4 linked regions of the Homo sapiens genome follow. The protein of the gene in region 1 interacts with the protein of each later gene in a biochemical or structural test. Each region holds a gene or a part of one and is shown in the gene's direction. Other genes may lie near its edges.

Region 1 (7,026 bases):
CAAACGCAGACCAAGGCTCTTGGCACATCAAATATGCCTATGGCTTAGGGTTATTGACAAGTCTTATGTTGCAGTGTATGTGGTTTATAGTCCTGCCTTCCACAGTTGCTTGGGAGAGCTGTGAGTCACTGAGGCTTATGAATGTTTACATTTTGTTTGTTGCAGATATATAGAAGGAAGCGGAAGCCTGCTGTTGACAGGATTTGCGTGGGCATTCCTCCTGGTGAGGTAAAGACACTTTGTCTATATTGCGTTTGTCCCTATTAGTTCAGACTATCTCTACCCAATCAAGCAACGATGCTCGTTAAGAGGTAAAAGTGGATTTTAAAGGCTTCTGTATTTATGCCAGGATGGAGCAATTAGTCATCGAGAAGAGAGGGACCCTGTATGTCAAGAGAATGATTTCAGAGAATCCAATACAATTTAAGAAAAAGCATGGGGCTGGGCGCAGTGATTCACTCCTGTAATCCCAGCACTTTGGGAGGCCGAGGTGGGCGGATCACGAGGTCAGGAGATTGAGACCATCCTGGCCAACATGGTGAAACCCCATCTCTACTATAAATACAAAAATTAGCTGGGCATAGTAGTGCATTCCTGTAGTCCCAGCTACTCGGGAGGCTGAGGCAGGAGAATTGCTTGAACCTAGGAGGGGGAGGTTGCCCAGATTGCGCTGCTGCACTCCAGCCTGGTGACAGAGTGAGACTCATGTCAACAACAAAAACAGAAAAAGCACGCACATCTAAAACATGCTTTTGTGATCCATTTGGGATGGTGATGACATTCAAATAGTTTTTTAAAAATAGATTTTCTCCTTTCTGGTTTCCGTTTGTGTTCTTTTATGCCCTTTTGCCAGAGTAGGTGGTGCAATTTGGCTAGCTGGCTTTCATTACTGTTTTTCACACATTAACTTTGGCCTCAACTTGACAACTCAAATAATATTTATAAATACAGCCACACTTAAAATGGTCCCATTATGAAATACATATTTAAATATCTATACGATGTGTTAAAACCAAGAAAATATTTGATTCTTCTCTGATATTTAAGAATTGAAGGTTTGAGGTAGTTACGTGTTAGGGGCATTTATATTCATGTTTTTAGAGTTTGCTTATACAACTTAATCTTTCCTTTTCAGTGCTTTGGGCTCCTGGGAGTTAATGGGGCTGGAAAATCATCAACTTTCAAGATGTTAACAGGAGATACCACTGTTACCAGAGGAGATGCTTTCCTTAACAAAAATAGGTGAGAAAAGAAGTGGCTTGTATTTTGCTGCAAAGACTTTGTTTTTAATTTATTTAAAGAAATAGGTTGTTATTTTTGATTACAGTGGTATTTTTAGAGTTCATAAAAATGTTGAAATATAGTAAAGGGTAAAGAAGCACATAAAATCATCCATGATTTCAATATCTAGAGATAATCACAATTTACATTTCCTTTCAGTCTCATTCTCTTCTTTTAACAGCTTTATTCAGGTATAATTTACATACAATATAATTTGCTTGTTTTTTAAGAGTATAATTTAGTGATTTTTGGTAAATTGAGAGTTTTGCAACCATCACCACAATCCAGTTTTAGAACTTTTCCATCACCCCACATCTGTCTTATATACACATATAAATGTGCCATACAATTGAGATCATACTGTATGTAGAATTTAAAATTAGTTTTTATTGTTAATGAGTGTATTATGAATATTTCCCAGTGGGTTACATTTCCTAAGATGTGGAATTTTACATTGCTACATAAAATCCCCCTATGTACATGTACCTATAATTTATTTAATAAATTCCTTATAAATGTTGGACACATTAGTTTCCATTTTTCACTATGTAAATATGTCCCTGTATACATCTTTTATTATTTCCTCAGGAACAATTCCTACAAAGTAAATTGCCCTCTCTAAAGAGCATACAAATTGACTGAGCCACCGTTAGGCCATTTTCTGAGACTGCACAGGTCACAAAGCAATCTGATCTTTGGGAATACAGCTACATTTTATAGGCTTCTTAGATAATGTTACTCTAAGTACTTTAAATATGTGGGGCTTCTCTGGGCTTTTTTTTTTTTGAGACGGAGTTTCACTCTTACTGCCCAGGCTGGAGAGCAATGGCGCGACCTTGGCTCACTGCAACCTCCGCCTCCCAGGTTCAAGCGATTCTCCTGCCTCAGCCTCCTGAGTAGCTGAGATTACAGGTGCCCGCCACAATGCCTGCCTAATTTTTTTGTATTTTCAGTAGAGATGGGGTTTCACCATGTTGGCCAGACTGGTCTCGAGCTCCTGACCTCAGGTGATCCACCTGCCTCAGCCTCCCAAAGTTCTGGGATTACAGGCATGAGCCACTGCGCCCGGCTTCTCTGGACTTATTATGTGGAGAGATAGTACAAGGCAGTGGCTTTCAGAGTTTTTTGACCATGACCGTTGTGGGAAATACATTTTATATCTCAACCTAGTATGTACACACAGACATGTAGACACATGTATAACCTAAAGTTTCATAAAGCAGTACCTACTGTTACTAATTGTAGTGCACTCTGCTATTTCTTATTCTACCTTATACTGCGTCATTAAAAAAGTGCTGGTCATGACCCACTAAATTTATTTCCCAAACCACTAATGAACAATGACTCACAATTTGAACACACTGGACAGGGGGATAGCCAATAAAATTGAAAAGAGCAAGGAAATTAATGTATTCATGATCTCCTCTCCTGTCTCTTACATTTTTGCAGTAGCAATGTAAAGGAATCCTAAGAGAACAGACATTCTGGGAATAGCAGGCCTAGCGCTGCACAACTGCTTTCCTAGGCTTGCTCCTAGTACCAAGCTCCTGACGCATATAGCAGTGGCAGTAATAACCAGCCCATAGTAAGGTTTGTCACAGGGACTGGTTGTAAGAACTGATTTGGTTGGTATAGCTGTGAGGGCCTGGCACGGTGTCCACGTGTGCCTCAATCCTAATTCTGAAAAAGGCTGACCCTGGGGGTGCTAATTAGATACACAGAGAGGAATGAATGCTGCCAGAAGGCCAAGTTCATGGCAATGCCGCTGTGGCTGAGGTGCAGTCATCAGTCTGGAACGTGAACACTGAACTTCTCTCACATGTGATTCTTCACTTGACTGGCTTCATAGAACCCCAAAGCCACCCCACCACCACATAAATTGTGTCTCTAGGTTCTGTGTTGCTCACACTCAAAATTTCTGGGCCTTCTCATTTGGTGCATGTGAATGGTGCATATGAGTGAAGTCTAGGATGGGGCCTTAGCGTTAAAGCCCTGGGGTAGTGTGACTGAGATTGTTGGTAAAGAATGTGCAGTGGTTGGCATGACCTCAGAAATTCTGAAATGGGACTGCACCTGCAGACTGAAGTGTTCAGAGAGCCAGGGAGGTGCAAGGACTGGGGAGGGTAGAGGCAGGAACCCTGCCTGCCAGGAAGAGCTAGCATCCTGGGGGCAGAAAGGCTGTGCTTTCAAGTAGCAGCAGATGTATTGGTATCTTTGTAATGGAGAAGCATACTTTACAGGAACATTAGGCCAGATTGTCTAACCAGAGTATCTCTACCTGCTTAAAATCTAAGTAGTTTTCTTGTCCTTTGCAGTATCTTATCAAACATCCATGAAGTACATCAGAACATGGGCTACTGCCCTCAGTTTGATGCCATCACAGAGCTGTTGACTGGGAGAGAACACGTGGAGTTCTTTGCCCTTTTGAGAGGAGTCCCAGAGAAAGAAGTTGGCAAGGTACTGTGGGCACCTGAAAGCCAGCCTGTCTCCTTTGGCATCCTGACAATATATACCTTATGGCTTTTCCACACGCATTGACTTCAGGCTGTTTTTCCTCATGAATGCAGCAGCACAAAATGCTGGTTCTTTGTATCTGCTTTCAGGGTGGAAACCTGTAACGGTGGTGGGGCAGGGCTGGGTGGGCAGAGAGGGAGTGCTGCTCCCACCACACGAGTCCCTTCTCCCTGCTTTGGCTCCTCACCAGTTGTCAGGTTATGATTATAGAATCTAGTCCTACTCAGTGAAAGAACTTTCATACATGTATGTGTAGGACAGCATGATAAAATTCCCAAGCCAGACCAAAGTCAAGGTGCTTTTTATCACTGTAGGTTGGTGAGTGGGCGATTCGGAAACTGGGCCTCGTGAAGTATGGAGAAAAATATGCTGGTAACTATAGTGGAGGCAACAAACGCAAGCTCTCTACAGCCATGGCTTTGATCGGCGGGCCTCCTGTGGTGTTTCTGGTGAGTATAACTGTGGATGGAAAACTGTTGTTCTGGCCTGAGTGGAAAACATGACTGTTCAAAAGTCCTATATGTCCAGGGCTGTTGTATGATTGGCTTGTCTTCCCCCAGGGACAGCAGAGCAACCTTGGAAAAGCAGAGGGAAGCTTCTCCCTTGGCACACACTGGGGTGGCTGTACCATGCCTGCAGATGCTCCCAAATAGAGGCACTCCAAGCACTTTGTTTCTTAGCGTGATTGAGGCTGGATATGTGATTTGATCTTTCTCTGGAACATTCTTTCTAATCATCTTTGTGTTCATTCCCTGAAAATGAAGAGTGTGGACACAGCTTTAAAATCCCCAAGGTAGCAACTAGGTCATAGTTCCTTACACACGGATAGATGAAAAACAGATCAGACTGGGAAGTGGCCCTTGACCTTTTTTCTTCTGTAGATAAGAGCATTGATGTTATTACGGGAAGAAGCCTTTGAGGCTTTTATGTATTCCACCTCGGTCTGGAATTTGTTTCTGTAAGGCTAACAGTTGCAATATACTAGGGTAATCTGAGTGAGCTGGAATTAAAAAAAAAAAGGAATTTCACCCCAATCTTATACTGACTTCAATAGAGGTTTCAGACAAAAAGTTGTTTTGTATATACTTATCAGTCATGAAAAGATAATTACAACTAAATGGCCTTTTTCCTTCCCTATTTATTTGGAGAAATTTAATTACATAAAAAAGTACTCAGAATATTTGAGTTTCCTGCATCAATAAGACATTTATAATAATGACCTTGTTTACAAATGAATTTGAAAGTTACTCTAATTCTTTGATTCATCAAGAAATAACTAGAATGGCAAGTTAAAATTTAAGCTGTTTCAAAGATGCTTCTGCATTTAAAAACAAATTTATCTTTGATTTTTTTTCCCCCCAGCAAATAAGACTTATTTTATTCTAATTACAGGATGAACCCACCACAGGCATGGATCCCAAAGCCCGGCGGTTCTTGTGGAATTGTGCCCTAAGTGTTGTCAAGGAGGGGAGATCAGTAGTGCTTACATCTCATAGGTCCGTAGTAAAGTCTTGGGTTCCTCACTGTGGGATGTTTTAACTTTCCAAGTAGAATATGCGATCATTTTGTAAAAATTAGAAAATACAGAAAAGCAAAGAGTAAAACAATTATTACCTGAAATTATATATGCATATTCTTACAAAAATGCAAGCCCAGTATAAATACTGCTCTTTTTCACTTAATATATTGTAAACATTATTCCAAGTCAGTGCATTTAGGTGTCATTTCTTATAGCTGGATAGTATTCCATTAGGATATACTCTTATTTAACTATTCCCCCTTTTGTAGACATTTGGATTATTTCCAACTTGTTCACAATTGTAAACACCACTACACTGAACAGCATCATCCCTATATCCACATGTACTTGTAACAGAATACAATTCCCTAGGAAGCTGGAATGCTGGAAGTCATGGTGATGTTCTCATGGTTACAGAGAATCTCTCTAAAACTAAAACCTCTTTCTGTTTTACCGCAGTATGGAAGAATGTGAAGCTCTTTGCACTAGGATGGCAATCATGGTCAATGGAAGGTTCAGGTGCCTTGGCAGTGTCCAGCATCTAAAAAATAGGTAATAAAGATAATTTCTTTGGGATAGTGCCTAGTGAGAAGGCTTGATATTTATTCTTTTGTGAGTATATAAATGGTGCCTCTAACATAAAGGGAAATAAAACTGAGCAAAACAGTATAGTGGAAAGAATGAGGGCTTTGAAGTCCGAACTGCATTCAAATTCTGTCTTTACCATTTACTGGTTCTGTGACTCTTGGGCAAGTGACTTAACTACTGTAAGAGTTAGTTTCCCTGGAAGATCTACCTCCTAGCTTTGTGCTATAGATGAAATGAAAAAAATTTACATGTGCCAGTACTGGTGAGAGCGCAAGCTTTGGAGTCAAACACAAATGGGTTTGCATCCTGGCCCTACCAATTATGAGCTCTGAGCCATGGGCAAGTGACTAACTCCCTGGGCCTCAGTTTCTCTGTAACATCTGTCAGACTTCATGGGTCCAGGTGAGGATTAAAGGAGATCATGTATTTACAGCACATGGCATGGTGCTTCACATAAAATAAGTATTTAGTAAATGATAACTGGTTCCTTCTCTCAGAAACTTATTTCTGGGCCTGCCAGGGGCCGCCCTTTTTCATGGCACAAGTTGGGTTCCCAGGGTTCAGTATTCTTTTAAATAGTTTTCTGGAGATCCTCCATTTGGGTATTTTTTCCTGCTTTCAGGTTTGGAGATGGTTATACAATAGTTGTACGAATAGCAGGGTCCAACCCGGACCTGAAGCCTGTCCAGGATTTCTTTGGACTTGCATTTCCTGGAAGTGTTCTAAAAGAGAAACACCGGAACATGCTACAATACCAGCTTCCATCTTCATTATCTTCTCTGGCCAGGATATTCAGCATCCTCTCCCAGAGCAAAAAGCGACTCCACATAGAAGACTACTCTGTTTCTCAGACAACACTTGACCAAGTAAGCTTTGAGTGTCAAAACAGATTTACTTCTCAGGGTGTGGATTCCTGCCCCGACACTCCCGCCCATAGGTCCAAGAGCAGTTTGTATCTTGAATTGGTGCTTGAATTCCTGATCTACTATTCCTAGCTATGCTTTTTACTAAACCTCTCTGAACCTGAAAAGGGAGATGATGCCTATGTACTCTATAGGATTATTGTGAGAATTTACTGTAATAATAACCATAAAAACTACCATTTAGTGAGCACCTACCATGGG
Region 2 (7,026 bases), on another chromosome or scaffold:
TTGTACAAAAATAGCCACTTAAGAGTGTAAATATTTGTTTGAATTAGTTTCAAAGGGTACCTTTGTAAAAGGAGAGAGAAAAGATAGAAGTGCAACATAGTTTATTTCATTACAAACTGGTTTGTACATCTTTCAAGTTCCTGTAATTTCAGAGAAGTGTTGATGTTAAGTTGGAAGTTAAGAATAGTATATTATTGCTTTTATTTAAAATAAATGTCAACTACTAATTTGTGATTCATATAAAACTTTATTTTGAATTGTATTGTATTTAATTTGAACATGTGGGGAGTAATACAACGTACTGTTAGCATTTTGAATATTAATTTTCGGAGTTACAGTTATCTTAAAGTCTTACAAATATATGAGCAGTTTTGAAAAAGAATTTTTGTAATTATGGTAGTAATTATTATACATCTGCCAACATTTATTAGCTGACTTGTACTATATGAAAATTCATTATGTGAAAAAATAGAAACTCATTATTTGTATTCTGGCTTGTGGGTTTAAATTTATTGCAATTGCTTCTTAAAAATAGAAATGAAAAGACCAATGAGAAGGCAAAATAAGATAATAACTGATAATTATTTTATCTAGAAATCTGACTTTTAAAATTTTTTAGAAAATTAATATTTTTATTTTGTCAACATGTGAAAGCCCATAAATAATTACCTATTCCATAAGAATGTTTTAGACTGTTTTGAAAGCTTCCATGTAATTGATATTTTTCTAGTTAATTTTTCATTACTCCATTATGAACAGAACTATGAATAGACTGACCCAGCTGGAAAGACTGGATTTGGGAAGTAACGAATTCACGGAAGTGGTAAGTTCTCATCAGTCTCACTTTCCCTAAGTTCTTATATTTAATGAAGAACAAAATATGAAAATTAATGTATTTCTCTTACAAATTGGATAAAGGTTTACTTTTTTTTCTTAGTTACAAGATATGAAATTTCTTAGCCAGAACTTTCCAGACAGATAGAAAAATTAACCAGACAGATGAACTTCTGACCACAAGTGAGCATAAAATGTAAAATCAATGAGAGGTCCATGGAAGAGATACTAAACAATTTTTAGCATAGGAAGCAGAAAATTTGAGTGATTATAAGTGGGAAACATCAGTCTGGAATGCAGCAGGTAAAAGTAGTTCTGAATCAGAGAGAGCTCCATGGGGTATTGCTTGTTAACTTATTCAGTAATAAGATACTTCTCTATAATGTTACTTAATAGCTAAGGGGAAAATCATTGAGTGAAACAACTGTTATTTTTGAAGTGGTAATGAGAACCTTTTTGTTTGTGCTTTGTATGCCAAGTGCGCTATGAAGCTGACTCTAAAAGGAAAGGAGTAGTGTTTAAGTAGCTTTTGTCTTTAGTGAGTTTTCCAAAAGAACTCAGAAAATAAGCTAGATTTTTTTTTTTTTGAAGAGGAACTCATCCAGCTGAGTATCATTATTAAACTTTTAAATTAGTTTACAAGTTTGTTGTTTAAAAGTGTGGTAGCTCTCAAATGATGGTTTTAAGCCTAGGAATTTCTCAAAACTGCTTGCTATAGTATTGCCCTGTGGGTATTATATTAATATTATAAATTTCAGCTGAGGTTTGAGGAGGAACATGGTACTTTGGAGTACCTCATTCTCTAAAATACATGCTGTGCTTCCCAAATTATTTATCTGTTACGTCCTTTCTCAATATTTGTTCTGTATGAATCCGTTTCCGTATTAACTATTTCAAAAATCTCGTTCATTTTAAGAATCCAACAAGCTTTCAAAATCGTCATTAGTTTTTGTACCATTTTGGTCTTCCAACATTATACACTTTTTAAAACTTACAGTAGAATTTAACAGTAATGCACAAAAGGAAATTTCTTTTAATCCAAGTTACATCTGGGATTCTTATCTATATTTATATGTTAACAGTAAATCTGATTGGCATGCCTTTTATATATGACTGTTAACTATGGTCATTAGATGTGATAGTACTCTGTGCCATCACATGATCATTGATTGCAGATGGCTTTGTGAGGTGATAGAAATAACTTTGAAGAGGGCAGACTTGAAGGGACAATGCCCAGGAGCAAATTTTGCCTGGATATGAAGGTCTGCCACAACACTTGGATTAATTTTGATGTCCTCAACACCATATTATAAAGAATTTTCTACCATGTAATTAGAAGTTTTTACTAGAGGTTTAAATTACAGTATATTTGTATCATGTAGTTATGACTTTGTCTATTTACCTTTCCCTGATTATGGACATTTAGGATGCACGTTGTCTTTTATCTCCTTCTTAATGAATGTCACCAGGGAACATTTGTAATTTTTCTGTTTTCTAAAAGCTGTATCTTCTTACTGATAATGCATGAGTGCATATTTTTATTGTATACTTCTAAGCAGTGAGTCCTATTTTTTATTTCTTTACAAATTATATAAAAACTTGCCCCTGTTGTGTAATCCAAAGCTTAAATGTGTTTTTTGTAATCTACTGCTATGGCATGTCTCTTTGATTTCTCCATTAATAATTTTCTATAATAATTTTACTGTAGTAACTATAATGCAGTAGAAAGGCTTACATCCTGGCTCTTCTTTTTTATTTTTCCTTCTCCCTGCTCCTTTTATTTAATGATTTGAAACTAAAGGTTATTAGAAATTCCCAGGGCTTCTTTTGCCAGATAAAGACATTCATAAAAATTAATTGAATTACTGCTATCCCCTACCCTAATCCCAACAGCCTGAAGTACTTGAGCAACTAAGTGGATTGAAAGAGTTTTGGATGGATGCTAATAGACTGACTTTTATTCCAGGGGTATGTATATGAGATTTTAAATGGCATCACTTATTTCTGGCTCTCCTTTGCAGTTTTGTGAATTGTACCTTTTATAATTACTTTTAATTAATAAAAAAATTGAATTATTCTTTATTAAACAGAAGCAAATTACTTTTTTTCATGAGCACATTCTTGATTATAATCTAAGAATTCTCATAATAAACATTTGTATGTCTCCTTTTAATACTGTTGAGTGTGTCCTTTCCAATGGTATCACTTGAACTTACGTCCCAATTTGCTTTGCCCAAGGAATTGGTAAACTAGGATATTTTTCATGAACTTTCTGAATTTTTTTTTTTTTTTTTTTTGAGACAGAGTCTCGCTCTGTTGCCCAGGCTGGAGTGCAGTGGTGCGATCTCGGCTCACTGCGAGCTCCGCCTCCTGGGTTCACACCATTCTCCTGCCTCAGCCTCCTGAGTAGCTGGGACTACAGGTGACCACCACCATGCCCAGCTAATTTTTTTTTATTTTTTAGTGGAGACGGGATTTCACCGTGTTAGCCAGGATGGTCTCGATCTCCTGACCTCATTATCCGCCTGCCTCGGCCTACCAAAGTGCTGGGATTACAGGCGTGAGCCACCGCGCCCAGCCGAACTTTCTGTTTTAACAACTGACAAATTGTTTACTCCCATAAAAAAAACCACAAGAATCCCCATATATGCTATTTCCTTAGGAGGTAATGGATACCTGAATTCCCAAAGAATATGTCCTTTGTCACTTCTGCTATGCTACAATTAGTAGAACATCTTAGCTATATTACTGAATACATTTCTAATGGCATTTAAAAAACTACCTGGGAGTCTTCTTTCTTGTATTAGCATTTAATTTTGAATTAAAACTTGGTATCAAGTTTATTCCCTAAACTTTTTACAAATTACTAATGTTAATAGAGTCATTAGATTTTCTTTTTTTACTTATAGTTTATTGGTAGTTTGAAACAGCTCACATATTTGGATGTTTCTAAAAATAATATTGAAATGGTTGAAGAAGGAATTTCAACATGTGAAAACCTTCAAGACCTCCTATTATCAAGCAATTCACTTCAGCAGCTTCCTGAGACTATTGGTTTGTATTGCTTTCAAATTCATGTAATTTTTATTAAAATAAATTCGAGACTTCCACATAATCTCAAATTTCACTTGTTATGAGGTAGTTATACTTCGTTACCACAGGAACGGATTTTATTTGAATTTTTCCTGGTGTGATCAGTTGTACAGTTTGCTCCTTTGTTGACATTACTGTTTTTTATTTACTCTAAGGTAATCTCATTTTTATTTCTAATATATTTAAATTCTTTAAAATAAGTTAACTTATGCAAATTTGGCTTAACTGTTAGCTTTTATTGTCATAGCTTTTATTTTGGTAACTTTTTTCAGTCCTGTTTCATTACAGACACTCAGACAAGAAAACAGATCAGTTGAACAGATCATGAGAGATCTATGATTGAGTCTGTGTAGTTGCTTGTTCAATGATATGTCAATGGAATTGAATTATTTTGATGAAAGGACCCAAAACTTCAATCTTGACATCTTTTTGATGTTTTAATTTAAAAACCAAAAATATTTCTCAGTTAAATCACGTAGTGGTTTTAGCTAAAACTACATTTTTGTAAGTTTGTTACGATTCTACTCTTAGTCAACACTTTTTAAACTTAAAAAATATTTTACTGTTTTAGTATTTAGTATATATGGAATAGTTTTTTATATACCTGTTATGAACTACCTTCATACTACCATTTCTTTAGTCTATTAATTTAACAAGTTTGTATTGTCTGTCTTTTCTGTGCCATGACATTGTTTTTAGAAGCAGAGCTACAACAGTGAACAACGAAGACAAAAAAGTTCCTACTATCAGTATATTTTAGTGGGAGTTAATAAACAAATGTACACTATGTTAAATAGTGATGTGGATGAAGATTGAAAGGACAGGATGAGGGAATAGAACATTGGGATTGGGAGTGGTATCTCTTTTAGATACGTTTGTTAGGAAAGTTGTTTCTAATTCTTGTCAGATGTAGTATGTCTCACACTGACTGTTGGTGGACTTGCTTCTATTTTAAGCTGAAAAATTGTATGTTGTTTCTTCCCTCATTAGGTTCGTTGAAGAATATAACAACGCTTAAAATAGATGAAAACCAGTTAATGTATCTGCCAGACTCTATAGGAGGGTAAGTTTTTTGTGAATGTATACACCCTCGAAGATTTTACTTTCAGTTCAGCATGCCATACATATTTTCAGGTATTTGCATAAATGACCTAAAGATTTTGTAAACATTTAAGTAATTAGTATACAGGTTGAGTGTGTTTATGATAGACAAACCTACTTATTGGTGAAGTTTAGCTTTGTGAAATGGTTTCACTAGGTTTTCAAAGTCAAGTTCAAATGTTTATATGTTCTGAAATTTTGGATTATATATAGGAAATCTTTAACAAATAATATATATTTCTTTTTTTAAATTAAAGGTTAATATCAGTAGAAGAACTGGATTGTAGTTTCAATGAAGTTGAAGCTTTGCCTTCATCTATTGGGCAGCTTACTAACTTAAGAACTTTTGCTGCTGATCATAATTACTTACAGCAGTTGCCCCCAGAGGTAATGTATTTTAGATTTGTTTAGATTTTTGTCTTTTCATTTTTTTCTGATTATCTTCATTATAGCTATTTAGTGTGGCTTCATTTATTTTCTTTCTAAAATAGTTTTCAAGTTATTTATTTTCTGAATAATTAGCTATGTTAATTTAGAAGAGGTTCTTAAATGCTTTCTTATGTACATAAAAATTAATTAAAAAGAAAGTCTAGTCATTATTTCTTCTATAAATGTGAAGTATTTTTCATAACTTTCAAAAATGATGTTTTTTATATGTTGATCAACCTGTAGGCCAAATTTTTTGATACTCAGTTTATATTTCTCTTTCAGATTGGAAGCTGGAAAAATATAACTGTGCTGTTTCTCCATTCCAATAAACTTGAGACACTTCCAGAGGAAATGGGTGATATGCAAAAATTAAAAGTCATTAATTTAAGTGATAATAGGTTCGTAATACTATATTCATCAGTTGGTTTATAGGAGACATTGGTTAGATGAAATTAAGTTTCATATGATATATAATAGAATAGCTAGTGCTTGTTGCTCTTTAAATATACATAGTAAGTTCTCAGTGTTATTGATAGGCTCTTGGAAAGTGTGACTTTCAGTGAAACAACATACAATGAAATCACTTCTTTCGTTCATCAGTGTTATAAGAAAATGACATTATTTGAGAACCTGCCATACACAGTTTTGCTAAAAGTTTTGGTTTCCAAGAACCTATCAATAACTTAAATGAGGACTTAACTGTATATATTTTTTTCTTTAAATACAAAGAGTGGTCTTATTTTATCTGATGTTAATTTATCATACGGTGGTTGTTACTGTTCATTTTGGGTTGACTTAGCTATATAGTCTTTATTCTCTTCTTACAGTTACCTTTTATTTCTGAAGTCACATCTTCACCTGAATATTGCTATTTAACAAAACAATTTTGGAATGTATCTAGTCTGTTGCTAATATTTTCCTAGGCAGAGATCTGGTTTCAACAAAGCCAAGGTGCAGAGTAAATTGATCACTAGGGTTGTAAATTGGAACAATGTTTAAGTTAAAAACAGAATGTCCATACTTTTTCGTGAGGTAAACATACTAATGATGATTAAACAGCATTTGTAGAGTGTTTTCACTTTTTGCTTTCATAGTGTCTTGTGAAGTCTTCAAAACAGCTCTATGAAATAGTATAATAGTATTCCCATTTTATGTAGGAGGGTTTTAAGACTCAGATTTAAGGTGACTCACGTAGCTTGTAAGGTAGAGCTTTAATTTAAACTCAATTTTCTGACTAATTATGATATTCTAACTTCTGTTTTATTTAAAAGAACCACTGCTTTCTTAAGTCACGTTTCAGCCTTTAATTCCTACGGCCCACAGTGGGTTGCTGAAAGAAAGGCACGGAAGACTAGTTAGGTATAAGATAGCAAGGCTGAAGTAGATAATTCTCTCTTAAATAAGATATTTTCATTTAGTATTCTAATGAGTATTTATAGTTGACCCTTGTATTTGTGGGTTCTGCAAGTGTGGATTCAAACAACTTCAGATCAGAAATATTTGGAAAAAAATTGTGTCAGTACTGAACGTGTACCAACTTTCCCATTGTTATTCCCTAAACAATACAGT
Region 3 (7,410 bases), on another chromosome or scaffold:
CTAGAAATATGTCATGGGAAAAAAAAATAGGAAGCAAAATGGGCAAAGTAATTCTGCTGAATCACAAGGCATGGTCTTCGCTGTAGGTTCATTGCCAGGAGGAGTCCTTGAGAACGCCAAGCTTCATGGGGGGATCTACAAGAAAAGAGCTTTGAAGACAGACCTCCTTCCCCCCTTAGATTTCCCTGTCAAGATATATAAAGGAATTCAAACTAATCAAAAAGCCCAAGTGAGCCGGCTGGTTAACTAGGACAGGCCCAACTTTGAGTTCAGAAAGCTTTCTAATGTTTTCCACCTGCCTATCCAAAGAACAAAGTTTCCAGGATATGTTGACTGCAAAAGAGGCTTGCTCCTAAAGAGAAAGATCATGTGGTTGCCGAAATGGCATATCCTGGAAGTTTAGCTCAATGCTGAAAACCATTGTCATGCATAAGAAATTACCCCATGCCCAAGATACTGAGTTTCTTTTTCTTAAGCTGTTTAATCATCATGAGAAAAGTAGTCAACAGGCATGTGAGGACATGAAGCAGTTAGCCCTTGAGGTTCCCGAGGCTCTTTACAGTCTCAGCCCATCTAAATTTAGCAATCAGTGGATCCTCTTCACCCTAGCAAGGTGGGTATTTCATTGTCTCGTATTCCTCTTCTCCCCCACCACACACATGTTCCTCCCCAACAGATATCTGCTATGATCATTCCTGTTCCACCCATGCCACTGCCCTGTCTGGAATGATCTGTGCCCTCTCACCACCTCTCCAAATCGTTCAAGGCCCAATTCATGTTCCTTTCTTCATGAAATATTCCCCAATGGCACCAGCCAACACCAATATTTTTGCTTCCTGATCAGCCCTCTTCTCTGTCTCACTTACTGTCCAACTAGAGATAGAAAAGGGGACCAAGTGGCTCGCACCTGTAATCCCAGCACTTTGGGAGGCCGAGGTGGGAGGATCACTTGAGGTCAGGAGTTTGAGAACAGCCTGGGCACCATAGTGAGACCTCATCTCTAGAAAAAATTTAAAAACTAGCAGGGCATGGTGGCACGTGCCTGTGGTCCCAGCTACTTGGGAGGCTGAGGTGGGAGGATCACTTGAGCCCAGGAGGTTGGGGCTGCAGTGAGCCATGATGGCACCACTGCACTATAGCTTGGATGACAAAGGGAGAGTTGTCTCTAAAAAAAAAAATTAAAAAAGAAAGAAAGAAAAGAAAGTAAGAAAGTAAAAGAAAAGGGTTTGATCTTGGGGGGTAAAACCAACTGCTAGTGTGCCTGGAGTAATATCTTCAAGATTCCAAAGTTCCTTCTGAGTTGAAAAGTGTCATGGTCTTTAGCAATGACAGTGAGAATGGTATGGGAGGGGGGAATGGAGCACTATATGTCCAGGATTTGCCAAGCCTAGTCTAAACCATTCTTCCTGGTAGTGGTTTATAATGAAACTTAATTTTTCATTGTCTCATATTTTCCAAATGTATGCAGTTCCATGTTCTTATGGCCACTCGGATTAAATTTTCAGATTTTAAAGTGATAGGCCGCAGAAGTTACAGAGAAAAATGACCATAAAAGATGTCATAGAGAGTTACAACTGGTCATTCTTGAGGGGTCCCTCAAGCTGGCCTTCCATCTTGGGGTTGATTTGATAAGCTCTCAAAAGATGATTTCAAGTGTGCACCCAGGGGCGATGGATTTCCTGGTATGATTTCTCATAAATATATGCATGAATTTATGAATATATACATATTTATATATACATATATATATATATATTATACACACACTTTCAGCATATAGACCAGATTACTAATTAATTTCCAAATGGAGACATCCTTTATCAGAAACTACCCTCCCCAGGGCTACTTCTACAGGTTTCTACTTCTCCTTCTGAATAATGGGTAAGAAGCTGAATGTGTCCAGGAAGTGTCCCAGTGAGCATGAAATCAGAACCTTCCCTCTTTTCTTTCCAGTGGTTAAAAAGTGGGCCTTGATTAAAAACTGCTCTGCCGCTTGCCGATGAGCTTGTCCTTAGGCAGTTTCTCAGATTCACTATGTCTTGGTTTTCCCAGCTGTAGAATGCAAATAGCAATGATACCTGACACAGGGTTCTTGTATAAAGTGCTCAGAACAATAAGTAGCACCTGTTAAACACAATGTTCATTTTTATGATTACATTTTTTTCTAGTAGTTTAGAAATATAATTTCCATGATAATGTAACAGCCCTAATGGCCCAAAAAAAAAGCCCATATTATTTTTTTTAACCCCTGCATATTATTCGAAATCCAGGAGTACCAAGAAAGATCTCACCTGAGAAGGCTAATTGTGTAGTTTTTTCTCTTCCTTTATACACTATACCTGGGAGTTAGCTCCACTCCTGGATTAACTCTTATTTCTCTATTTTCTTTCTGTTTTACAACAATTCATCACACCACATATGTAGATGACTGTGTGTATGTGAACATGGCAAGTGAAACCTCACGATCTCCAGGCTGTTCGGTGAAGCTTTATGCGAATTCATTTCACCTACACCCTTCCCCTGCCCACCCAAGGCCTTGAACCGAAGCCTGTGATCCCCTCCCAAGTTGGATCCTGCCCTTCGCCAAAGGCAAGACCGCTGAAGGCGTGGCCTTCTAGATGATTCATCAGGTTGGCGGGCTCTCCCTCCCCTCCCCCTTGCCCAGGGGACACCCTGTCCGCGTGAAGAGGGGGGCCTTTGTGTGAGTGATGTTTCTCAATTATCAAACTAGTGGCGTGAAACCTTTTCCTGAAACACCTGAGTGTAAAAGGTTTTGTTACCTCCCTTTTTTTCTTTTAAATAATAAAGGAATAGCCACACCTACCTTAGTTTCTATTGGATAAAAAGGTGAATAGTTTTGTTGTGGTGGTTGTTGTTGTTTTAAGCCTTCAACTCTCAAAAGGCACAGAGTTCCCAGGTGCAAAGAGGTAGCTTAGACCTGTCTGGGGCGGATCGGGGACAGGAGCCAGCTCCCCTGAGGTCGAGCACCAGAGCCGGCCCCCAGACCCCGCCCTCGACTACAATTTCTCTTCCTTCTCCTCCCCCTTGCTTTGCGAGCTATTGACTGACTGCAGCCAGCTGAGGCCCAGGCTGTGGGAATCCGGACTTCCTTTTCTTCCCTCTCCCATTTTTCCTTCTTCCTCCACCCTCCCCCAAACCAAACCCCAAAACCTCTAGGTAGTCCAATATTAAAACCGGTGGAACAAAAGCATTCCCAAAATCAGGAGGAGGGAAAGAAGAAGACGAGGGAGGCAAAAGTAGGAGGAAAATAGGAATGTCAACATTTATTTTCCTGAAGGGGAAAAAAAATTCTCTCTGGGCAGGCAGGCCATCTTCCGGGACGGGGAATCCACAGTTTCCTCAGGTAATGAGTTCCAGGGATGCTGGATGCAGGTGGTAAAAATACGCAGCGTTTCAATGGGATGATGGGAGATGTTTACAGCCCTCCTGGGAAGATGCCAGAGAGTTTAACAGTCCTGGGATACCTCCCAGCTGCCTGCTCTGGTGCTGGATGAGTTTACGCCTCCTTTCCTGCTGGAAAAGGTGAAGCAACCAGTGACTTGTCCAGGGTCACACACCACGCTTGGGACAGAAATAACTCTGACGTCTCTTTCCTGGCTATATCAGCAGACAACATCGCCTAATGACAGTACTACCATTCCAATCTGAATCATTTAAATTGCTCCTAATTGCAGGCCTGCAGTGCACTGTAACTGCCGTATGACTCTAACTGCCAAGCCAGCCGAGATAGGAATGACTGAAGTTTTGCAAATTCCTGAATATGGAATTAAAAATGCTGGGCGGGGGAGGGGGTAGCGCAAAAGTGTTTGAAAACCACTTTGAAACTGCTGACAGGTATCCTATTTCAAATTGTTTAAAAGATGAATTGGAAATGTCAACTTAAATTTGTCATTTTATTGGAATTAGAGAAACACTTGGTGTTCAAATGGATGCGGTTCGAAAAGGCACCTCAGATATTTCTAAGAAGTTCGGCTTCACACTCTTCCTTTTTGTGTCTGCTAAATTACTGTCTCATTTTGGTGTTTAAACTTCCCTTTTAACTCCTTTGTGGGCAGATATGGGGAAAGGGGAGGGCCTGGGAAACAACCAGGCATTTGACTTCAGATCTGAACACGGGGCTGGACACGTGCTGTGCTCAGGAAAGAAAGTAAATTCCACCTGGCAAATTGCTCTAACTGATTTATTTGTCCACAAAGAGACGCCACCTACCTGCTTGCAGGTATTCAGGTAAATGACAGGTGGGCGGGGCCTCCTGACTCTTTCAATCCCTAAGGTCTCAGCAATGCTTTATCTGTCGGGGCTTCCGTGATGTCACCCATTTCCTGGTCTGGAGCGACCAATGCCGTCCTCCTTCCTCCAGGCACCTGTTCACCGAAGTTGAGGCTGGTCACAACTCCGGCGGCCCAAGGAGCTGCTCGGTTCACCCACAAGGAATGAGAGCTGCCTGCCTGCTGCTGCTTGGAGAGCCCCAGACAGTCGCTTGAAGAGGTGAGTTGAAACCCTCCATTTTTCTCTCTTGGCATTTAGACCACTGGCCCCTGAGGGATCTGAACACGGAATTTGAATGAAAAAATACAAGCTGAACGGCTTGTCGCTAGTGTTTGCCCCAGAGGGAGAAGCTTTTTTGAGACAGAAGAGTAGAGAGATGACTTTGACATTCTAGTTGCACAATAAACTTCTCCCAGGCCAGATATTTAATCCTTTTTGTTTCTCTGATCATTAATCCAGCCTGTGCTTGTCCTCGTACTTGATCTGATTAAAACAACAACAACAACCTAAAGAGAAGTAGAGTGAAGGCTTTTGTTTTGAAACTTAGCGCGAAGGTGCAGATCTGTTCAGCCCGTTTAACGGGGGCTAGGAGGCCAGTGCAGACTGGATTCAGAGTTCTTATTTTTCCTTTTCTTCCTCCCTGTATTTTGATCTAAACCTGTGAAGTGTCCCTAGTTTTTTTTTCTTTCCCCCTGAAAACCTGTTCCTCAGGGCAAATTCTGTTGCCCTATTCAGAAGCTGTGCGTTCCAGTTTTCCTCTCTTCTCTGAAAAAGTCTACCATTTTCTTTGCTCTTTGTTGAACACTCTTTTAAATACGACTTTGCAGTGTGCATTTAGAATTTGTTTACATTTAGACCTGGACTGGCTGCCTGCTGACCTTTGGTTACAGTAAGAATTAATTCCCTCATTGCTGCAAGAATGTGACTTCAGGTCTGATTTTTAATTTTTTGGACCTCTTTGGCTTTTTCTGTCTCTTTTTCTTTTAATAGCAAATATACCGAGGAAGTTGTTCTGCCAGGACCTGGCTTTTAAAGTAATTTTACCTCTAGGATCCATTTTTGTTTTCTTAATCCTGATCACACAGCCTGTATCTTGACAGCCCAATAGTCAAACTCTTTAGCCAATATTGTTGTCAGAGAAAGGAAACCATTTTTAAGCCCAGCTGCCTGCTGGGATGAGCTGGAAAAACTGGAAAAAGAAATAAATCTGCGAGACACTTCATTCTAGATTCCAACATCAGCTGTTTTTCTGAGATTTAAGTTAGCAGATGTTTGCAAGGGAATAATCTGTTAGGAATTATGCTCCTGTTCATCCACCCAGAAATACAAAATGCATGTAAATTCTCCCAAGGTATGAATTGAAACAAGCTGAGATCATTTTTGCCTTAGACAGACAGTCGTTCCTCACCACTAAGAATCTGCCCAGTTCTTGTTGCTAATTTCTGTCTTACTGTTTGGAGGTCCCTATTGTTCTTCCTTAACTGACCTTTGTTTATTATTTTCCCCAAGCTTGTGAGTTTAAGGGGGGGGGTTTGGCCACCACTTGTCTCTTACTAAGGTTCTCACTTGATTCAAAGCTTGGATCTTCTGATAAAAGTGCATCTAAACCTCTCCTCAAGATTACATTGCCTCTGGTTTACCATGGTTGATTAGTGCTTTTCACAGTAGTTAATTTATGATTAAATAAATAATTTCATCACTGTATGTCAGCATGTCTGAGTACTAAAGGAACAAAGCTGTAGACACTGTACCCCCAGGTAGAAGAAAGAAAAGAAGTGACAAAGACTGGAATTCAGAGTCAGATTGACTAGAATGCAGTTGGTCTGTTGGGTAATTTACACACAAGTCCTGTCCAGAGTTCCTGTGGTAACTCCACCCATTGGTTCAAGTGGACATAGGCCTGATGGAAAAATGTGCAATCTCCTTCATTTATATCCTTGAGCAAGTTACTTCTCTGACTTTCAGTTTCTTCATCGGTAAGATGGGAGATAATAATCCCCATGATCTAATGTGGTTGTGAGAAGTAAATGAGGTAGCTAATATATGTTAGCATCCAGCGACCAATGCCTGGTGTTAACTGGTGCTAAACTGAGGCTAGGTTCTTCCTTTGGAAGGAATTTTCCTAGGTTGCTTGGAGGAGAGAGTCTGACTCTATCAAGATAAAGATCATATGTGGTTGCAGTTGTAGGAACCTTGATAGTTCTTGTTATTGTAATTAATTGTAGGTAATTAACTGCAATGTTAACAGTTTGGAAAAAGAAAACAGGCAGGAGAATTCTTAAACAATGTCATCAAACAAGGTGGGCAGATTTGTCTCCGCTAGCCTCACAGGCAAAGCTTTTAGGAGTTGCTGGCTGGCTGTGATTTCTTCCTTTTCCCACTCTAAGGCTCTCATCCTGCAACAGACCCACAAAATGTGATTCTCCATGGGCCTTTCGGGGGAAATGTCCAGTTGTCATTGCTGTAATCTGACTTGGCAGAGAGTTCTTTTTGCTGTCAGTCGTGCTATCTCCAGGGCAGACTGGGTGTTTGGTCTCCTCCAGTCTCACAGATAAACACCCTTCTCCCTAACCAGAGTGAGGGTTCATGCCGAGCCTCTGGCAGGAGGAAGCCCCTGGTTTGGAGCCTCATTGTACCATAGAAGGAGGTTCATGACCCATTGGATGTGATTGGCCTTGTCATGCAATACCCTGTGCCCTTGGGTGACCTTGAGTCATTGCATATGAGCAGTTGTGTGCCCAGGGCCCTGGTCACTTCTCTGGGTCTCGCCCTTCAGGGATACCACAAATTTTCATCATTCAAGAGTAAGGGATTAGTGGATTGAGGTCAGTGGGTTCTACTGTTCTACTAGCTTGCCTACGGAGCCCTAAGGGAGAACCTCAACCCCCCTGCATGTCAGTTTCCTTAGCTACATTTTTCCCCAAAGGACGCTAAAATGGTGTACTTCACAGGCCCCCTCCATCCTTACAACTGAAGCAAGGTGGGCTGCATGTCCAGGTGGGTAGGTCAGACTGACTGGGGGGACTGGGTAGTGCCTCACTAGAAAATATCAATCTTATTCATTCCATTCTAGGTGGGGCAATGCTACTGCTTTAGAATAGTGGTCTGGTCTCTGGCATC
Region 4 (7,026 bases), on another chromosome or scaffold:
ATGACTTTTAAAAAATGATTATTGTTTCTTATAATTGAGTTAGCCAGGTGATTCTTTAGGTCTCAGTTGATTTGACTGGGGCAGGATGGTCCAGGATGACCTCATTCACAATCTAGGACCACAGCTGGGGCAGCAGGGATAGCTGAGGTCTCATCCTCCAGCCTGTGAAGTTCATGCTGCTTCCCATGGTGGTCCTCCTGGGGTTCCTAGCAGCAGAGAGAGGGAAACCTCAATGTATAGGCACTTTTCAACCCTCTACCTGTGTCATATTTGCTAATAACCCTATTGGCCAAAGCAAATCACATGGCCAAGCCTAGCTTCAAAGCATGGAAAAACCGACTCCACTCTTGATGGGAAAAGCATTGAATATGTAGGCATATTATAGAGAGACATGCCTACAGGGGTGGCAGGCATTTGCAGCCATCTTTCCTTGCCATGTGTCGTCATCCCCTTCTTGCATGAGTCTTCCTAACCTACCCCTGTAGCCGTGGCTCGTTAATGCAGGGAAAAGTGATGGGTAGAATGTCTAAGAGACTTACTAATCCCAAGCACAATGAAATTTGAAGAATTACTGGTTGGTGGAGGAATGATCATTTTGTTTGTCTAGATAAGCACTTAAAGGAATGCTCAGTTTGTAAAATGGAATACACCCATGGGTCCTAGATTTTTGTGTCCTGGATCACTAAGAACCTAATGAAAACTATGAACTGCCTCCAAAAATGCATGTATTAATATGCAGTCTTGTGAAAAGTTTTAGGGTAGTTGTAGATCTTAAGAACAGTTCTATGAAATGAATGTGTTTTTATAAGAACTTGTACGCACCACTTTTTATTAGAGAAAGCTGAGGTGGTGGATTTAAGGTTCACTCTTATGGCTAATGGGTCTTCCTTTTTGTCAGTAAGATCAGAAACACGAAAAAGGTCGAGCTTGATTTATCCCACGTTTCTCCATGTCTTCTCTAGACTAAAATTGAAGCATTGGTGTGGATAAAATTTGCAGTGCCATGATCCTGTGAACTGTCAGGCTAGCTCCTTTCCTGGAAGTGCTTCCTGAGTAATCCCATGCACTCTCACCCCATGAGAGCTACAATTCAGATCTCACAGTTGGTTATTTTTAAGTAAGATGGTTTGAGATTTTGTGTTATTTAACCATCAGCCAAAGCTAAAGTTGTATAAGCTAGCCTGCCCTTAGGTCCCATAAAGACATCCAACTAATGCAGGTCTTCCCAGGTGGACATGTGGGTGTCACTCAATGTCTGATGTCCTTTCTGCTTTCTGGAGGTAGCAGCTAGGCAGTGAGGACATATACTTATTTTTGCTAATGAGACGTAGAATCCCAGATGAAACTTGAAAAACGTCATTCATGCTTAATGGTCAGAAACTGTACGAGATTTTAAAACTGAAATAATTCCCCAAAGAATTTCAAAGCATGTCAGTAACTCCATAGGGAGTCCGACTAGGAAACTTGGCAAAAGAATTAATTACCTTACTGTATTTGTTCAGCCTTTGCTTTCATTGAGTATTTTTCACATGCCAGGTATTGTGGTCTTAATTAGTTTATTCCTTTGGACAAAGAGTAGGCAATATAGCAGAATCAACACTTGGTAAATTTTCTCTTTGAAAAGAAAAAACAGGAGTGGGGAAGACTAAATATTTAACTCCTTTGAAAATGTAGAAGCAACTGAGGCTGAGGGCTGCAGTGTGATGACTCGGTGACTTAACCTGATCTCCTGATTCAGATTCAAGGAGGTCTGCCCTCACAACCCCTGGTTTCATAAAGCACTGCCACAAAGGCACTTTGGAATCTTGCTACAGTTATTATAAAACAGAGGGAAAAAATTGAAGTAGAATGTAAGTGAAGTAAATAAATCTTAAACGTACAGTCTTTTGGATGTTTGTGTATGTAAAACTCTCACCCAGATTTACACAGGACGATGATATCCAGTATAGTTAGTAACCACTGCCCATAGGTAGCTATTTAAATTAAGTAAAATTCAAAATTTAGTTGCTGGCCAGACTCGGTGGCTCACGCCTATAAATCCCAATGCTTCGGGAGGCCAAGGCAGGTTGATTGCTTGAGCTCAGGAGTTCAAGACCAGCCTGGGCAACATGGCAAAGCCCCATAGCTACCAAAAAAAAAAAAAAAAAAAAAATATATATATATATATATATATGCATGCTCCAGGTGTAGTGGTACATGCCTATGGTTCCAGCTACTCAGGAGGTGGAGGTGGGAGGATCCACTTGAGCCTGTGAGGCAGAGGTTGCAGTGAGCTGAGATCATGCCACTGCACTCTAGCCTGGGCAACAGAGCAAGGCCCTGTACAAAAAAATAAAATAATAAAATAAAATTTAGTTCCCTAATCACACTAGGCACATTTCAGGTGCTCAGTGGCCTCATGTGGCTAGTGGCTACCGTATTATAGAGTGCAGGAATAGAATATTTCCATCATTGCAGAAGGTCCTATTGGACAGGGCTGGTAGAGGATATTGTGAACATCCTGCAGGGCTCTCTTGTGTTCTTCTGTTCAGTGTCTCCTCTGAAGATTATATCTTTATATGTATCCCCATAGTTAGTAGTGCCTGTTCTTGATCTTCAAATAACAAGCATTCTTTCTTTTTTTATCTGTCGCCCAGGCTGGAGTGCGGTGGCATGATCTCGGCTCACTGCAACCTCCACCTCCCGGGTTCAAGCAGTTCTCCCGCCTCGGCCTCCTGAGTAGTTGGGATTACAGGCACGCACCACCACACCTGGCTAATTTTTGTATTTTTAGTAGAAACGGGGTTTCACCCTGTTGGTCAGGCTGGTCTCAAAACTCCTGACCTCGTGATCTGCCCGCCTTGGCCCCCAAACTGCTGGGATTACAGGCGTGAGCCACCACGCCTGGCCATAACAAGCATTCTATATTGTATACTCTTGGTTCAGGGAAAAGCACAGATCGAGGGAGCTTATTCCTGGAATGCTAATCCTAGGGCTCATTCTCTGCCTTGTGTACTCCTCCAGCATGAAGAAGTCCATTCAAGTGTCCTCAAGAGTCTAGTTTATTGCTTCTTATCCAGGTCAAGCTTGTCCCCCAGGGGACATTGGGCAAAATCTGGAACCATTTTTGGTTGTTAAAACTGGAGGGGGGCTCTAGTGGTAGGTAGAGGACAGGGATTCTACTTGAAGAGTATTTCATTGACCTTGTGTAGGATTCAGGTGCTTGTTAAGATTAGCCAAAGGTCCTGAATTTGAAGTTTATGAAGATAGTTATTATGTTAGGCAAGGGAGATTTAGAAGCAAATTTTTACATTAAAAAAATGGAGCTTAACAATCTAATAAATGATTGAAAGATTTGAATCAGCATTTCTCCAAAGAAGATTTAGAATGGCCGGTAGACACATAAAAAGAAGTTCCACTTCATCACTCATTATGGAAATAAAAATCAAAACCACATGGAGATACCACTTTACACCCACCAGCAAAGCTATAATCAAAAAGTTGAACAATGACAGGTGTTGATGAGAATGTGGAGAAACTTGAACCCTCAGGTTGCTGGTGGGAGTAAAAGTGACGCAGCCACTTTGGAAGATAATTAGGCAGTTTCTTAAAAGTTTAAACACAAATTTAGCATACAACCCAGCACTTCCACCCCTAGGAATCTACCCAAGGGAAATGAAAGCATGAGTGGAAACAACCCAAATGTCCATCAGCTAGTAGTGGAATACTACTCAGCAAGGAAAAACAACTTGGATGAATCTCAGAAACAGTATACTGAAGGAAAGAAGGTAGACAAAGCACTATACATGTATGATTTCATATTATGAATGTACAGAAAAGGCAAATCTATACCAGCAAATAGCAGGTCAGTGGTTGTGGGCAGGGCACGGAGGGGTTGGGAGAAGTTAGGAAAGGGGATTGACTACAGACAAGCTCAAGAAAAATTTTAGGAGTGATGGAGATGTTCTAAAACTGGATTGTGGTAATGGTTGCACAGCTTTTTAAATTTGTGAAAAACCATTATATACATAAAATCTTATCTGCATATCAATCATCTTAAACAAAGCAATTTTCTCCCTTGGAATAATATGTAATGATAATTGTTTTTTTTTTGAGACCCGCTTTGTTGCCCAGGCTGAAGTGCAATGGTGCCATCTCGGCTCACTGCAACCTCCGCCTCTCAGGTTCAGGCAATTCTCGTGCCTTAGCCCCACAAGTAGCTGGGACTAGAGGTGCCCACCACCTTGCCTGGCTAATTTTTTGTATTTTTAGTAGAGGTGGAGTTTCGCCATGTTGGCCAGGCTGGTCTTGAACTCCTGACCTGAAGTGATCTGCCTGCCTCCGAAAGTTCTGGGATTACAGGCATGAGCACCATGCCTGGCCTTATAATGATAAGTCTTAAAGGCTAGCTGGCTCAGGGATTATATTAAGGAAAATACTAATACTTGGTCATCTAGAAAACCCACGTGGGACCCTTATGTACAAAATAAGCCATACTGAAAGATGTATTTGAATGTCATTCTTCATGTCCACATAGATGCTGGTCTGTCCTTTGAACCATTATGAGAGGTGACTCCAGTGAGGTTCCAAAGTCTGGTTTATCATCCCACACACACACCCCCCTCCCCACTGCCCGCCTTTCTTGCCCAGGCTGGAGTGCAGTGGCACCATCTCAGCTCACTGCAGCCTCCACCTCCCAGGTTCAAGCAGTTCTCCAGCCTCAGCCCAGTCGAGTGGCTGGGATTACAGGCACGCACCACCACGCCCAGCTAACTTTTGTATTTTTAGTATAGCCGTGTTGCCCAGGCTAGTCTCGAACTCCTGACCTCAAGTGATCCACCTGCCTCGGCCTCCCAAAGTGCTAGGATTACAGGCATGAGTCACTGTGCCTGGCCTCATCACCCCCTCTTTTAAAGAAATCTTCCTCGGCTGGGCACAGTGGCTCACACCTGTAATCCCAGTACCTTGGGAGGCCGAGGCTGGCGGATCACGAGGTCAGGAGATTGAAACCATCCTGGCTAACACGGTGAAACCCTGTCTCTACTAAAAATACAGAAAATTAGCTGGGCGTAGTGGCAGGCACTTGTAGTCCTAGCTACTCGGGAGGCTGAGGCAGGAGAAGGGCGTGAACCCGGGAGGCAGAGCTTGCAGTGAGCCGAGATTGCACCACTGCACTCCAGCCTGGGCGACAGAGCAAGACTCCATCTCAAAAAAAAAAAAAAGAAATCTTCCTCATAGCCCTTGCCATTCCCTTCATACCCCCTTTCTACCAGCTGTAGTGTGCAGAGAGAGCAAGGGGTGCCTTCTGAAGCACGCTTTTTTTCTCTTTCATTACAGGCAGCAAGCTGCCCGTTGGGGGACTGTATTCAAGTCAAGGTGTCACAAACAATAAGACTATGCTTGCGTTGGGGGATGGTAGAGGGGTTGCTTACTATTATCTGTGCTTTCTTACCTAATAGGCTCTGGATTACTGCCACAGCAAGGGAATCATGCACAGGGATGTGAAACCTCACAATGTCATGATAGATCACCAACAGAAAAAGGTACCATTACAGCCAGGCAGCAACAAGCTTGATTAAAAGGCTTAGAGCAGACCAAAAAGCTGTCCAGTGCCATGATGGTTTCTGTAGACCCGTGGTGGGTTTTTTGGCAAACTTTCGTTACTGTGATTTCTCCCATCTCCATTGTTGATTTCTACTTTGTATAGTGTAGTACACAAGGAAAGTAGACGGTTTAACTATAGTAACTAACTATAGTCACTTGTTTATTTTGGTCATAGTTTTCTGGAGGGCCTCAGAAAGAAATTACAGCTGGTGGTTTCTGCTTCATTTCTTGATGACCCGCAGACCAATCTGCCTGGCCTTAAAAGAACACTTGGGTCCCTCCTATTTTTGATATCCAACTCTGTTGGCCCTAATCAGTGAGTAAATGGATCATCTAGTATTAGACGAATAAATCATTAGAGCAATGCTTCAGTCCTGGAGTGGGATGTGTGTCCCCAGCCCTTTCACTGACGCCTGGAGCTTATAACGAAAAGCTATGAATGATGGGAGAATGTGTTACCAAGTGTAACTGCCTACAGTTTCTGAATGTGGGCAGAAAAAAAGGTTGAGCTCTGTTGATCTAGAGAGAGGGATGAACCAGGATAATTTAAAATTTTTTCAAAAAGCATTTCAAGTGTTCTGCTCTAAAAATGACCTCTTGCACGATTGCTGAAAATGTAATTTTTAAGCCAGTGCACCTGCTCACATTTTTTGTGTGGCCAAATGATTGTTACCTAATGTGATGTGGCCTTGTTCTAAGGCATAGGCGTCTAGAAACACTCCTTTCACATGTTTTTTTCTGTCCTATTTGTAGCTGCGACTGATAGATTGGGGTCTGGCAGAATTCTATCATCCTGCTCAGGAGTACAATGTTCGTGTAGCCTCAAGGTACTTCAAGGGACCAGAGCTCCTCGTGGACTATCAGGTAAACTTGTTAGCAGAGCTATTCTGGGTTATTTATACTTGCTTAGGGCTTTTCTGGTTTGCTGTTGATCTAGTCAGTTTGAATACACTCAAAACCCAGCCATTATTTCACCCTAAAATGCTGATTTTAGTTTTTTCTCAGCTAGTTTTTTGGGGGGACAGAGAAGTTTTTAAATCTAAAATATCTGCAAAGGTTAAATGAAGACTAGAAATTCAGATCATTTCTAGGAGCCAGGAAGTTAAAAAAAATTTTTTTTAAATAAATTATCTATGGCCATACCACCCTGAACACGCCCAATCTCGTCTAAAAAAGAAATTTATATCAGAAAAATGGATTTCTAATACCCTTGGCTAATGCGTTGTCCTTATTGCCTCAGATGTATGATTATAGCTTGGACATGTGGAGTTTGGGCTGTATGTTAGCAAGCATGATCTTTCGAAGGGAACCATTCTTCCATGGACAGGACAACTATGACCAGGTGAGCAAATGCTTTCTGGTTCTTATTTATTTGGGGGTGAATGCCAAAAAAATAGCATCCTTAGATAAGAATACTATCCTTGAGCCACTAAGTATCACTCA

What was found.
Region 2: the proteins of ABCA1 (region 1) and ERBIN interact in a test that uses a peptide from one of them, tested with the Homo sapiens proteins (2 studies listed by BioGRID and IntAct).
Region 3: of the proteins of ABCA1 (region 1) and LNX1, one has a biochemical effect on the other in vitro, tested with the Homo sapiens proteins (2 studies listed by BioGRID and IntAct, with this or other methods).
Region 4: of the proteins of ABCA1 (region 1) and CSNK2A2, one has a biochemical effect on the other in vitro, tested with the Homo sapiens proteins (one study listed by BioGRID).

What each region holds. Positions count from the first base shown.
Region 1 is NC_000009.12:104,785,138-104,792,163, reverse strand, and holds part of ABCA1 (phospholipid-transporting ATPase ABCA1), read left to right. Parts: intron 1-165; coding exon 166-228; intron 229-1,135; coding exon 1,136-1,242; intron 1,243-1,264; exon of another isoform or gene 1,265-3,596; coding exon 3,597-3,738; exon of another isoform or gene 3,739-4,109; coding exon 4,110-4,244; exon of another isoform or gene 4,245-4,547; intron 4,548-5,187; coding exon 5,188-5,291; intron 5,292-5,773; coding exon 5,774-5,866; intron 5,867-6,524; coding exon 6,525-6,768; intron 6,769-7,026. UniProt on the Homo sapiens protein: Catalyzes the translocation of specific phospholipids from the cytoplasmic to the extracellular/lumenal leaflet of membrane coupled to the hydrolysis of ATP.
Region 2 is NC_000005.10:66,020,563-66,027,588, forward strand, and holds part of ERBIN (erbin), read left to right. Parts: intron 1-759; coding exon 760-823; intron 824-2,727; coding exon 2,728-2,802; intron 2,803-3,743; coding exon 3,744-3,888; intron 3,889-4,917; coding exon 4,918-4,990; intron 4,991-5,285; coding exon 5,286-5,415; intron 5,416-5,739; coding exon 5,740-5,855; intron 5,856-7,026. UniProt on the Homo sapiens protein: Acts as an adapter for the receptor ERBB2, in epithelia. By binding the unphosphorylated 'Tyr-1248' of receptor ERBB2, it may contribute to stabilize this unphosphorylated state.
Region 3 is NC_000004.12:53,588,487-53,595,896, reverse strand, and holds the start of LNX1 (E3 ubiquitin-protein ligase LNX), read left to right. Parts: upstream 1-4,410; 5' UTR 4,411-4,509; intron 4,510-7,410.
Region 4 is NC_000016.10:58,167,106-58,174,131, reverse strand, and holds part of CSNK2A2 (casein kinase II subunit alpha'), read left to right. Parts: intron 1-2,845; exon of another isoform or gene 2,846-3,662; coding exon of another isoform or gene 3,663-3,767; intron 3,768-5,438; coding exon 5,439-5,522; intron 5,523-6,336; coding exon 6,337-6,447; intron 6,448-6,823; coding exon 6,824-6,925; intron 6,926-7,026.